2 linked regions of the Homo sapiens genome follow. The protein of the gene in region 2 purifies or fractionates together with the protein of the main gene of each other region. This does not show direct contact. Each region holds a gene or a part of one and is shown on either strand. Other genes may lie near its edges.

What was found. The genes of interacting proteins can lie anywhere in the genome.
Region 1: the proteins of NDE1 (region 2) and DCAF13 purify together in Homo sapiens (affinity purification with mass spectrometry; one large-scale study listed by BioGRID and IntAct). This does not show direct contact.

What each region holds. Positions count from the first base shown.
Region 1 is NC_000008.11:103,424,857-103,430,174, reverse strand, and holds part of DCAF13 (DDB1- and CUL4-associated factor 13), read right to left. Parts: intron 4,120-5,318; coding exon 4,030-4,119; intron 3,079-4,029; coding exon 2,923-3,078; intron 1-2,922. UniProt on the Homo sapiens protein: Part of the small subunit (SSU) processome, first precursor of the small eukaryotic ribosomal subunit.
Region 2 is NC_000016.10:15,665,962-15,671,279, reverse strand, and holds part of NDE1 (nuclear distribution protein nudE homolog 1), read right to left. Parts: intron 3,995-5,318; coding exon 3,841-3,994; intron 1-3,840. UniProt on the Homo sapiens protein: Required for centrosome duplication and formation and function of the mitotic spindle. Essential for the development of the cerebral cortex.

The DNA.
Region 1 (5,318 bases), on a different chromosome or scaffold from region 2:
AGGTGAGCCACCTGCCTCAGCCTCCCAAAGTGCTGGGATTACAGGCATGAGCCACCGCACCTGGCCCCCATGCATGTATTTTAATGTACAGATATTACTGTGTTCTAATTTGTAATAAAACATATTTTACTTACCTACTCTTCAACTTAAGACTTGTTTCCTGTTTTTTACTATTATAAGTAATACTTCAATAAACATTTCCCCCCCACGTAGTTCTTCTTTTGAATTATTTCCTTAGGATAAAATTTCACAAATGACATTACTGAATCAAAAGGTATGAACAATTTTATGGCTTTTGATATTTAGGGCTAATTATTTTTCCAAAGAGCTGTACCAGTATACACTACAATGTGGGATATGTCCATTTTAATGCAACTGGGCAGCACTGGGTAGTGTCATTTAAAAGTGTCATTTAAAATATCTGTATGACAGTATTTCCTAGCTATATAAATTTATTGTTTTATTAGTAAATGTTTCTTCGTGTTGTTAACTCTCTATAAATTAGGCCTGTCTTTTGTCCAACTGTTTGAAGATTTTTCTAATTATTTTATTTGTAAGTCAATTATAAATGTGCATGGTACTCACATAACCCCTTGGCATTAAGTAAAAATAAGCCCTCTATCATCCAGTGGATCCCTGAAACCCTCTCTCTGTAGCATCATTCCTCCTCACTCATGGTTCCTGACACTCACAACTATTGGCTTCTGCCTACAATTACTTCCTATTGCAAGTATGTGGGCAGCAAGAAGAGCTATTTACTAAATAGTTGCATGGCCAGCTAACTCCTCCTACTGTCTGTACGCAATTCAAATAACACATCATAAAGCTAATGTTATGATCATGATTTCCTCTCAGTTCTTTCTGAAAGCCTGCTATCTTAATGGCTGCTTTTCTGAGACTTCCCTAGTGAGGTCCCTCAACCTTTCTTGGCTTCTCATTATGTCGCCTCAGGGTCTGACCAGGTTCCATTTCTAAAAAGAAAGACTTTGATCTGAACAAAGCAAAACAATCTACCTAGACCAAATGCCACCTTTCACACTGTAAAACGTCCCAATGATCAGCATAAACTTTTGGCTTTACCAGAATTCTAGGCTTCAATATTTTAAGAGAAAATTAATTATTAATGATTAGAGGAGACAAATACAAATACACTCCATTTGTTCACAGCAACATGCCCTTTCCATTAAGTTTAAAACAGGATAAGAGACACACACACCATTTACTTTTACCACTAAGTTCATAAGGTTAATAGCAATTAAAAAAAAAAACAGCTGAACAAATACAGCTGCTATACAGGCAAGTTTGAAAAACATGGTCACTAGGTCATCCCTAATAATTACGATTTTAGAATTGGTGATCGGCTCTTCTGACACAGATGTTCACCAAAGCAGAGAAGCAAAAGATTTTTTTGTTCCTCTAAATAGTAAGAACCAGTGTCTGTTTAGGTTTTTTTGTGTTTTTTTTTTAGTACGTAATACCGTCACCATCTTGAATTTGGATAGCACTTTTAAAAAATGTTCACATATGTTATCAACTTTTACACTTGGTCCTGCTCTGCAAAGGTAGCTGCCTTTCCATGCCACTTCTCTCTTCTACAACCAAGGGAAACATAAGGAAGGAAGATGGAGGATGGAGTGAGAAAGATATAATAGAGACAGACACTCCAGACCAGGAATCAGAAAACTTTTTCTGTAAAGGGCCAGAGAGTAAGTATTTTAGGTTTTGTGGGCCATATGGTCTCTGTGGCAATTACTTAACTCTGCCATCATAGCACGAAAGCAGCTACAGACAATATGTACGCAAGAGAACATGGCTGTCTTCTAGCAGAGCTCTATTTACAAAAACAGGCAGTGGGCCACATGTGGCTCACAGACTAGTTTGCCAACCTATTCTAGACCTGTAGCGTCTCTAGAAAGTGTGTGTGTGAGCATGTGGTAGTTGCAGGAAGAGTGTCCTCTGACTTCTCAGTAATTCCTCAAGGCCAAGCTCACATCGCACTGCAGCATCTCATTTTCCAGTATATCATACAAACTATTTTTATACCTTACTATTTTGACTCAACCTTACTTCCTATCTTTTATCAGGTTGGGTCTTTAAGAGCATAACACTTGCATATTAGGATTTTTCTCTCATACTACCTAAAATGGTAGCCTCGCAATAACTGCTAAAATTGGCTTATATATGCTATGATTGCCTTTTCTTTCAACAGGAAAAACATATCCCTACTGAGTCTTCTGGACAATCAGTTCATCTATTGTTATGCATTAAGAAAAAGTTCAGAGAAAGATCTGGAGTCCAAGGGCTAGCTTAGCCTTCAGGACAGCCTCCATTCCTAAATTCAGACCTAAACAGACGACATGTAGTGGCCAATCTCCAACTCTTCCCTTAGGCCTGGAGGAACTGGGAATCACAATTCAGACTTCTGAGCAAAGAAAAATATAACTATAACTAATTACCATGCAGTTCAACAATAATCACAAATGTTTTTATGAAGCATTGGTACCTTACCAATTACAAATAGACAAAATGATGTCCAATGCTCCTTCTTCTGACCTCCAAGGCAGGTAGAAAAATTAACATTTTCCTAAATGTACAATGACATAATCTATGGAACATGAAGTTGAAGGCATGAGTAAAACTAAAGTTAAAACAAGACTATATTTACTTGGATTTTACCCCAATGGGCAAATGCACACACCACTCCTCTAACAATGCTTAACTCTAGTATCTGGGACTAAACTGCTGGGAAACATGTTGGGATTTGAGCAAAGGTATCAGAACTCATTTACAATCGGGAAAACTGACAAAATGCCAAAACACCATTAAAATTCAGAAGTTTCTATCATACATTCAAAAGTTTTCTAAACAGAACTGAAATTATTAAGCCATAATAAGTAAAACATACTTAAAAAAAAACATTACCTCAATTGGGTTAAATTTAACACTACTTATACTGTCAAATCCCCAGGTCATTGAACATATAGGATTAGTTCTTTGTTCATCCCAAATGTCTACTTGCTGTCCACATGTGGCAAAAACAGCTTCTTTCCAGTGATGATCAATCCCAGTATACACTGTCTTTAAAAGCAAAAAGGTTAAGAGGATTTTTTTCATTACTAATTCAAATCTGCAGAATAATATTTTAAATATATTTATCTATACTATCTTTTTAGAGAAAAGCCCTGTTCACAAAGAAACTTCTTTGAAGTCCTTACTTAAAGGGGGAAACAATACCATAATGAGACAAGACATTTTAAGAATGAAACCAATTTTGTTTTAGAAATTACTAACGTGTTTCCAACTACAAATTATCTCTACCTCATACTCATACCCCATTCCCCTATCCCTTTAAGAACATTTAGTCTTCTTGAAACCTAAAGCAGAACCTAAATATTATATACTAACCATAATATTGAAACGACAAAGTGATTTTTAAAAGGTAGATTTAATTTAAAGATTAAATCTAATTTTGGAATTGTTTGCTTAATATAAAAATGTAAACATTATAAAACATGGATAGACCAAATGTTCTAAATTATTCTTATGCTAAAACTAAACCACCCATCACCTGATTTGCAGAATAATTTGGTAGAAACATTAATAAGATTTATACATGATGCATAATACTATTAAATTTCTTCATTTCTTAAAGGAGTCTTTCAACTAAGAAATTCTGAGTTTTGTGTAAGATCTATGATGACATCAACTAGACAAGCTGAAGCATTTTCTGAACTTCTATCTTTTTCTCCGTGGTCTTCCCATGGGAAATGTTTCATTGTATCCTCTGGCTAAAAACAGAAATCAAACTCTACTACAATGAATACCAAAAAAAAAAAAAACTGTTAAAATTCTTTAGCATCAAAGGACTTTAGCTGCATTAAATATTGCGTAAATGGGTCAACAATTACAGCCTAAAGTCTTTCGTTTCTTATCTGCATCTTCTTCCCCATCTTAGGAAATTATAACTATAAAATAATTTTAAATAAAAGAATGTTAATAGGCAAGCTATTAGTCAATTTACTTTTGTACCTTTCCTAATATTGTATGTAATGGCTCTTCCTCGTCTCCATAGCCTGGCCCATCCATTTTCCACTGCTTCACAGTTTTGTCATCACCAACCTAGAAATATTTGTTTTATTATGATGATGGTAAGGAACAACAGTTATAAATTAAAACTTGCCAACACATATCAAATAAGTATCTTGTTTAAAACAGGTAACATACCATATCATTCCAGTATTACACTTATTGATCCATTTATATCCCACCTTGTTTTAGTAAAGATTTGTGACAAATACATAAAGTACATAAAACTAAAAATATAATGAGTAGAGCAAAAGAAAAACAAGAACAGGGGCAAAGTTAGGTCATGCATATTGTGATAAACATGGCATTTCAACTTGGAGAAAAAATGGATTATAAAAAATGGTATTATAATATCTGGTTAGTCATTCAAAAAAATTGAGCCAATTTGATGCCTTATGTGAAAATAAAATTCCAGGTAATTTTAAATGTAAAAAATAAAATGAAAAACATGAAAATACTGGAGAGAAGGCATTGTTATAATATTGAAATAGATAAAGTCCTTTTCTGCATGAACTGCAGAAACTACTAAGTCAGTGGTTTTCAAACTGTGAACTTTGGGCCTCTGGAGGACCCTGAGAACTTTTCAGGGTCCACACAGTCAAAACTATTTTCATAATGTTAGTAAAGACATAGTTTGTCTTTTCACTGTGCTGACAGCTGCACAAATAGTAAAAAAGCAACAGTGAGCAAAACTGTTGGCACGTTAGCCCAAATCAAGGCAAAGCAACAAACTATGGTAATTTAGACATGGGTATTTGGCAGACATGTTTAAGCTATCAGGTGAAACAGACTACAAAACAGAACATATAATGTAGTTTGAGGTTGAAAACAAAATCATAAATGTGGTACTGTATAACTGCATACATACAAAACTGCTAGTTTTAACTTAAAATCTTACATTTATATATTAGATGCAATCTATATCCACTTTTTGATAAAATCATTAACAAAGATATCTTTATCTAAGGGAAGAGTATGAATGTAGCTCTTTTCTTACAGCAAATTCAAAAAGGAAAACGCTTCTTGCAAAACAGTTTACAGTGCCCATGAGATGAAAACAGATAAGTGATCAGGAAAGGTTTTGGTACTAAGATTACACAGCGATGTCTTTTGTTGAGGATGTCGATGAACAGAATCCTTAACTACATCCTTGTTATAGACAAAAAGTATTTAATAGGGCTACATCTTATTAACAACTATGAATCTGAGCCACTGGCACTATACTAAAACTC
Region 2 (5,318 bases):
CTCCCTCCTCAGCCTCTCAAAGGGCTGGGATTACAAGTATGAACCACCATGCCTGGCCAGAAATCCATCTTTTTACAGGAAGCTTTACAAATTTTGATGGATGGGGGAATATATATAATAAAAGGCAAGTAAGTAGGGGAAATATTATTGGTAGAGCCTAGGTGGTGGTGGATACACAGGTATTCACTGGAAATTCTTTCAGCCTTATATGCTGGAAAACGTTCATGGGGAAATGCTGAACAAAAACCCCTGAAGGCGATCAAACAACACCTATGGGGCAGATGGATCTGCAGACGGCCAGCTGCACTCTGTGGTCTCCAACAGAAAGCTTCAGCTTCAATGACCACCTTCAACGTGTCTGGGACCTCTCCTCCGCCCTGCCCCAAACCCCCAATCCATTTGTTGGTCCCACACCCTTTCCTATACATTAGTAAAGCTGGGCTTGCCAAGGTCCACCCGACACCCATTCTTGTCCACGTCTGTGATGGGTACAGATCAACTCTCCTTCAGCCCCATCTCCCCAAGCACCAAGTGTCAGCAACACATACACCTACAAACACCCTCCACACAGCCTCCCTCAACCCATGCAGTCCTTTCTTTTTCTTTCTTTTTTTTTTTTTTTGAGACAGAGTTTCGCTCTTGTTGCCCAAGCTAGAGTGCAATGGTGCAATCTCGGCTCACTGCAACCTCCGCCTCCCGGGTTCAAGTGATTCTCCTGCCTCAGCCTCCCAAGTAGCTGGGATTACAGGCACATACAACAACACCCAGCTAATTTTGTAGTTTTAGTAGAGACAGGGTTTTGTCATGTTGGTGAGGCTGGTCTCAAACTCCCAACCTCAGGTGATCTGCCCACCTCGGCCTCCTGAAGTGCTGGGATAACAGGCATGAGCCACCGCACCCAGCCAGTCCTTTTTCTCTTGAAAGGCCCCCACATCAGAGTTCTGTGACTGAGCTTCACGTCCCCAACTGCTTCATGGCATTAGGTTTGTCTTCCCAAAGAAGGCAACCAGCACTTCCCCTTTCACCGTCCATCATACCTAGCCCTGGGCACACACAGTTTTGACTCTTCCATGAAGCAGCTCATCAAAATGTACATTGGGAGTTTAATGAGAAAAAGAAAACCACACAGACATGCCAGGGCCCCACCCAGACTTACTGAGAAATGGAATCTCAGAGCAAGGCGGGGAGATGGGGATGGGGAGAGAGGGTTCAGGCCTGTCGGATGTTTATGAAGCTGGCCTAGTGATGCTGGCTGGCAGCTAAGGCTGAGAGCCAGTCTCTGGGGCACGGTGTTGACTTAGTGATCCCTTGCTGAGCCCTACAGCATGTACAGAAGGGATGGTTTTTACCTTGCAGAGCACTGGGTCTCCAGATACCTGGCTATGTCTAGAGGTGCTTTTGGTTTTCACCACCTTGGAGGTGCGGGGAATGCTACTGGCATCTAGAGGGTGGAGGCCAGGGATGCTGCCAAACATCCCACAGTGTGGTCAGGCGGGGTGACTCATGCTTGTAATCCCAGCACTTTGGGAGGCTGAGGCGGGCGGATCACCTGAGCTCAGGAGTTCGAGACCAGCCTGGCCAACATGGTGAAACCTCGTCCTTGCTAAAAATACAAAAATTAGCCGGGCGTGGTGGCTCACACCTGTAATCCCAGCACTTTGGGAGGCTAAGGCGGGTAGATCACACTGTCAAGAGATCAAGACCATCCTGGAAAACATGGTGAAACCCCATCTCTACTAAAAATACAAAAATTAGCCAGGCATGGCGGTGTGTGCCTGTAATCTCAGCTACTCAGGAGGCTGAGGCAGGAGAATCACTTGAACCCAGGAGGTGGAGGTTGCAGTGAGCCGGGATTACGCCACTGCACTCCAGCCTGGCAACAGAGTGAGACTGCGTCTCAAAAAAAAAAAAAAAAAAAATTAGCCAGGCGTGGTGGAGGGTGCCTGTAATCCCAGCTACTCAAGAGGCTGAGGCGGGACAATCACTTGAACCTGGGAGGCGGAGGTTGCAGTGAGGTGAGATTGTGCCACTGCACTCCAGCCTGGGCAACAGAGCAAGACTCCATCTCAAAAAAAAAACAGGCTGGGCACAGTGGCTCACGCCTGTATTCCCAGCACTTTGGGAGGCTGAGGCAGGCGGATCCTGAGGTCAGGAGATCAAGACCATCCTAGCTAACACGGTGAAACCCCGTTTCTACTAAAAATACAAAAAATTTAGCCAGGCGTGGTGGCAGGCGCCTGTAGTCCTAGCTACTCGGGAGGCTGAGGCAGGAGAATGGTGTGAACCTGGGAGGCGGAGCTTGCAGTGAGCCGAGATCGCGCTACTGCACTCCAGCCTGGGCAACAGAGCAAGACTCCATCTCAAAAATACAAAACAAACAAACAAAAAACCCACAAAGCAAACCTCAGTCCCTCCCAACGGAGGATGATCCGGGCTCCAATGTCAACAGCAGCCAGGTCGAGAAACCTGCTCTGAACTGGCAGAGTGCAACACACCTTTTGGTAATGAAGGAAATGGTCTGCAGCCCCTCTGTCCACTAAGGAAACTCACTGGCCACACGTGGCTCCTAAGCACTTGAAATGTGGCTACTGTGACTGAGGAATTAAGTTTTTATTTTAATTCATTAAATTTCAACAGCCAAATGTAGCTAAGGGCTACAATATTGGACCTGATGATATTACTCTAGCAACACCTCCATACCCTAAAAATGTCTCCCTGGCCAGGTGGTGGCTCATGCCTATAATCCCAGCAATTTGGGAGGCCAAGGCAGGAGGACTGCTCGCGTCCAGGAGTTCAAGACCAGCCTGGGCAACACAGCGAAACCCTGTCTCTATAAAAAATACAAAAACTAACCAGGCATGGTGCCGCATGCCTGTAGTCTCAGCTACTCCCGAGGTTCAGGTGGAAGGACTTTGGTTTTTTTTGAGACGGAGTCTCGCTCTGTTGCCAGGCTGGAGTGCAGTGGCACAATCTCAGCTCACTACAGCCTCCAACCATCAAGTGATTCTCCTGCCTCAGCCTCCCAAGTAAGCTGGGACTATAGGCGTGTACCACCACGCCCAGCTAATATTTGTAATTTTAGTAGAGACAGGGTTTCATCATGTTGGCCAGGATGGTCTCAATCTCTTGACCTCGTGATCTGCCCACCTCAGCCTCCCAAAGTGCTGGGATTACAGGTATGCACCACCTCGCCCGGCCCAGGTGAGAGGACTGCTTAAACCTGAGACGTCCAGGGTGCAGTGAGCTGTAATCCAGCCACTGTACTCCAGTCTGGGCAACAGAGCAAGACCCTGTTTCAAAAAAAAAAAAAAGTCTCCCTGCCATGTGCCCTATAAAATCAGTGTACACAACCAAGAAAGTCCACGGGAACATGTGTGTGACTTGCTTCTCAAAGCTCCACCCATCATGGATCCCGAGGTCAGGAGTTCGAGACCAGCCTGGCCAACATAAAACCCCGTCTCTACTACAAATACAAAAAAAATTAGCCAGGCGTGGTAGCAGGCGCCTATAATCCCAGCTACTCAGGAGGCTGAGGCAGGAGAATTACTTGAACCTGGGAGGTGGAGGTTGCAGTGAGCCAAGATCGCGCCACTGCCCTCCAGCCTGGGCAACAAGAGTGAAACTCCATCTCAAAAAAAAAAAAAAAACAAAACAAAAAGCACCACCCACTAGAGGCACAAAGAGTTCAAAGATCACGTCTGCCGCACAGGCCCTTCCAGAGATGAGCATGGGCCTGGGGTCTGGAGTCCCTCATTGCAGGGTTCCTTCTTCCAGCCAAGCATGCCATGCCTGTGTTGGACGCCTGTCTACACCTGAGCACACTTCCTCTCAGCCCCTCACCTTGATGGTTTCCAGCTCCATGCGAAGGCGGTTATTTTCGGACAGGAGGTCTCTGTTCCTGGTTTCAATTTGTTGCAGCTGCGTCTCCAATTCAGCTTCATATTCTCGGCTTCCCTCCTGGAATTCTCGGAGTTCCTCTTGCGTATTTTCTGCCCTACAGCAAAATTGTTAATCATCACGTAGTAATATTTTTGAAGACAGAGTCTCGCTCTATCACCCAGGCTGCAATGCAGTGCTGCAATCTCGTCTCACTGCAACCTCTGCTTTCCAGGTTCAAGCGATTCTCCTGCCTCAGTCTCCCGAGTAGCTGGGACTACAGGCATGCGGCACCACACCCAGCTAATTTTTGTATTTTTAGTAGTGACGGGGTTTCACCATGTTGGCCAGGCTGGTCTCGATCTCCTGACTGGAGGTGATCTGCCTGCCTCGGCCTCTCAAAGTGCTGGGATTACAGGCGTTAGCCATTGTACCTGGCCAAATTCAAGGAATATTTTAAAAATATCAAGCCTGAATTACCTTTAAGTCAAACTAGAATAAAGAAAGTAGGAAGGGCTGGGTACAGTGGCTCATTAAGAATTACTTGAGGCCAGGAGTTCCAGACCAGCCAGGGCAACATAGTAAGACCTCATCTCTACAGAAATGTGTTTAAAAATCAGCCAGACATGGTGGCACACGCCTGTAGTCCCAGCTACCTGGGAGGCTGAGGCAGAAGGATCACCTGGGGTCCCAGGGGTTGCAGTGAGATAGGTCACACTTGTGAAGAGCCAGTGCAATTCAGCCTGGGTGACAGAGTGAGACCCTGACTCTAAAATAATTTTTATTTATTTATTTGAGATAGAGTCTTGCTCTGTCACCCAGACTGGAATGCAGAGGTGTGATCATGCGTCACTGCAGCCTCGACCTCCCAGGCTCAAGCAATTCTCCCACCTCAGGCTCCCAAGTAGCTGAGACTATAAGAACATGCCACCATGCCTGCTAATTTCTGTATTTTTTGTACAGACAGGGTTTTGCCATGTTGCTAGAGCTGGTCTCAAACTCCTGAGCTCAAGTGATCTGCCTACCCAAAGTGCTGGGATTACAGATGTGAGCCACTGTGCCTGGACCTAAAATAATTTTTCAATAAATGAAAGAAACTAAGGGGACTGGAATAAGGCCTCTATGTACAAATTATAAAGACCCATTATAAATAAAAACAGTGCCAAACCAAACGCACACACACACACCTCCCAGATATGAGCCCTGACCAAAACACGAGTTTCAAATCTTAAAATCTTTAGCAATATATTTTGCTAGGCATAGGGAAAAGCTCTTTCCCTGTGCACAAAGAACTTACCAGATATGGCATCTAGGAACTGATAAAAACCCTTCTAGAAAATAAGATGGACACCGGGCGTGGTGGCTCACGCCTGTAATCCCAGCACTTAGGGAAGCCGAGGCAAGTGGATCACCTGAGGTTGGGAGTTCGAGAGCTGCCTGAC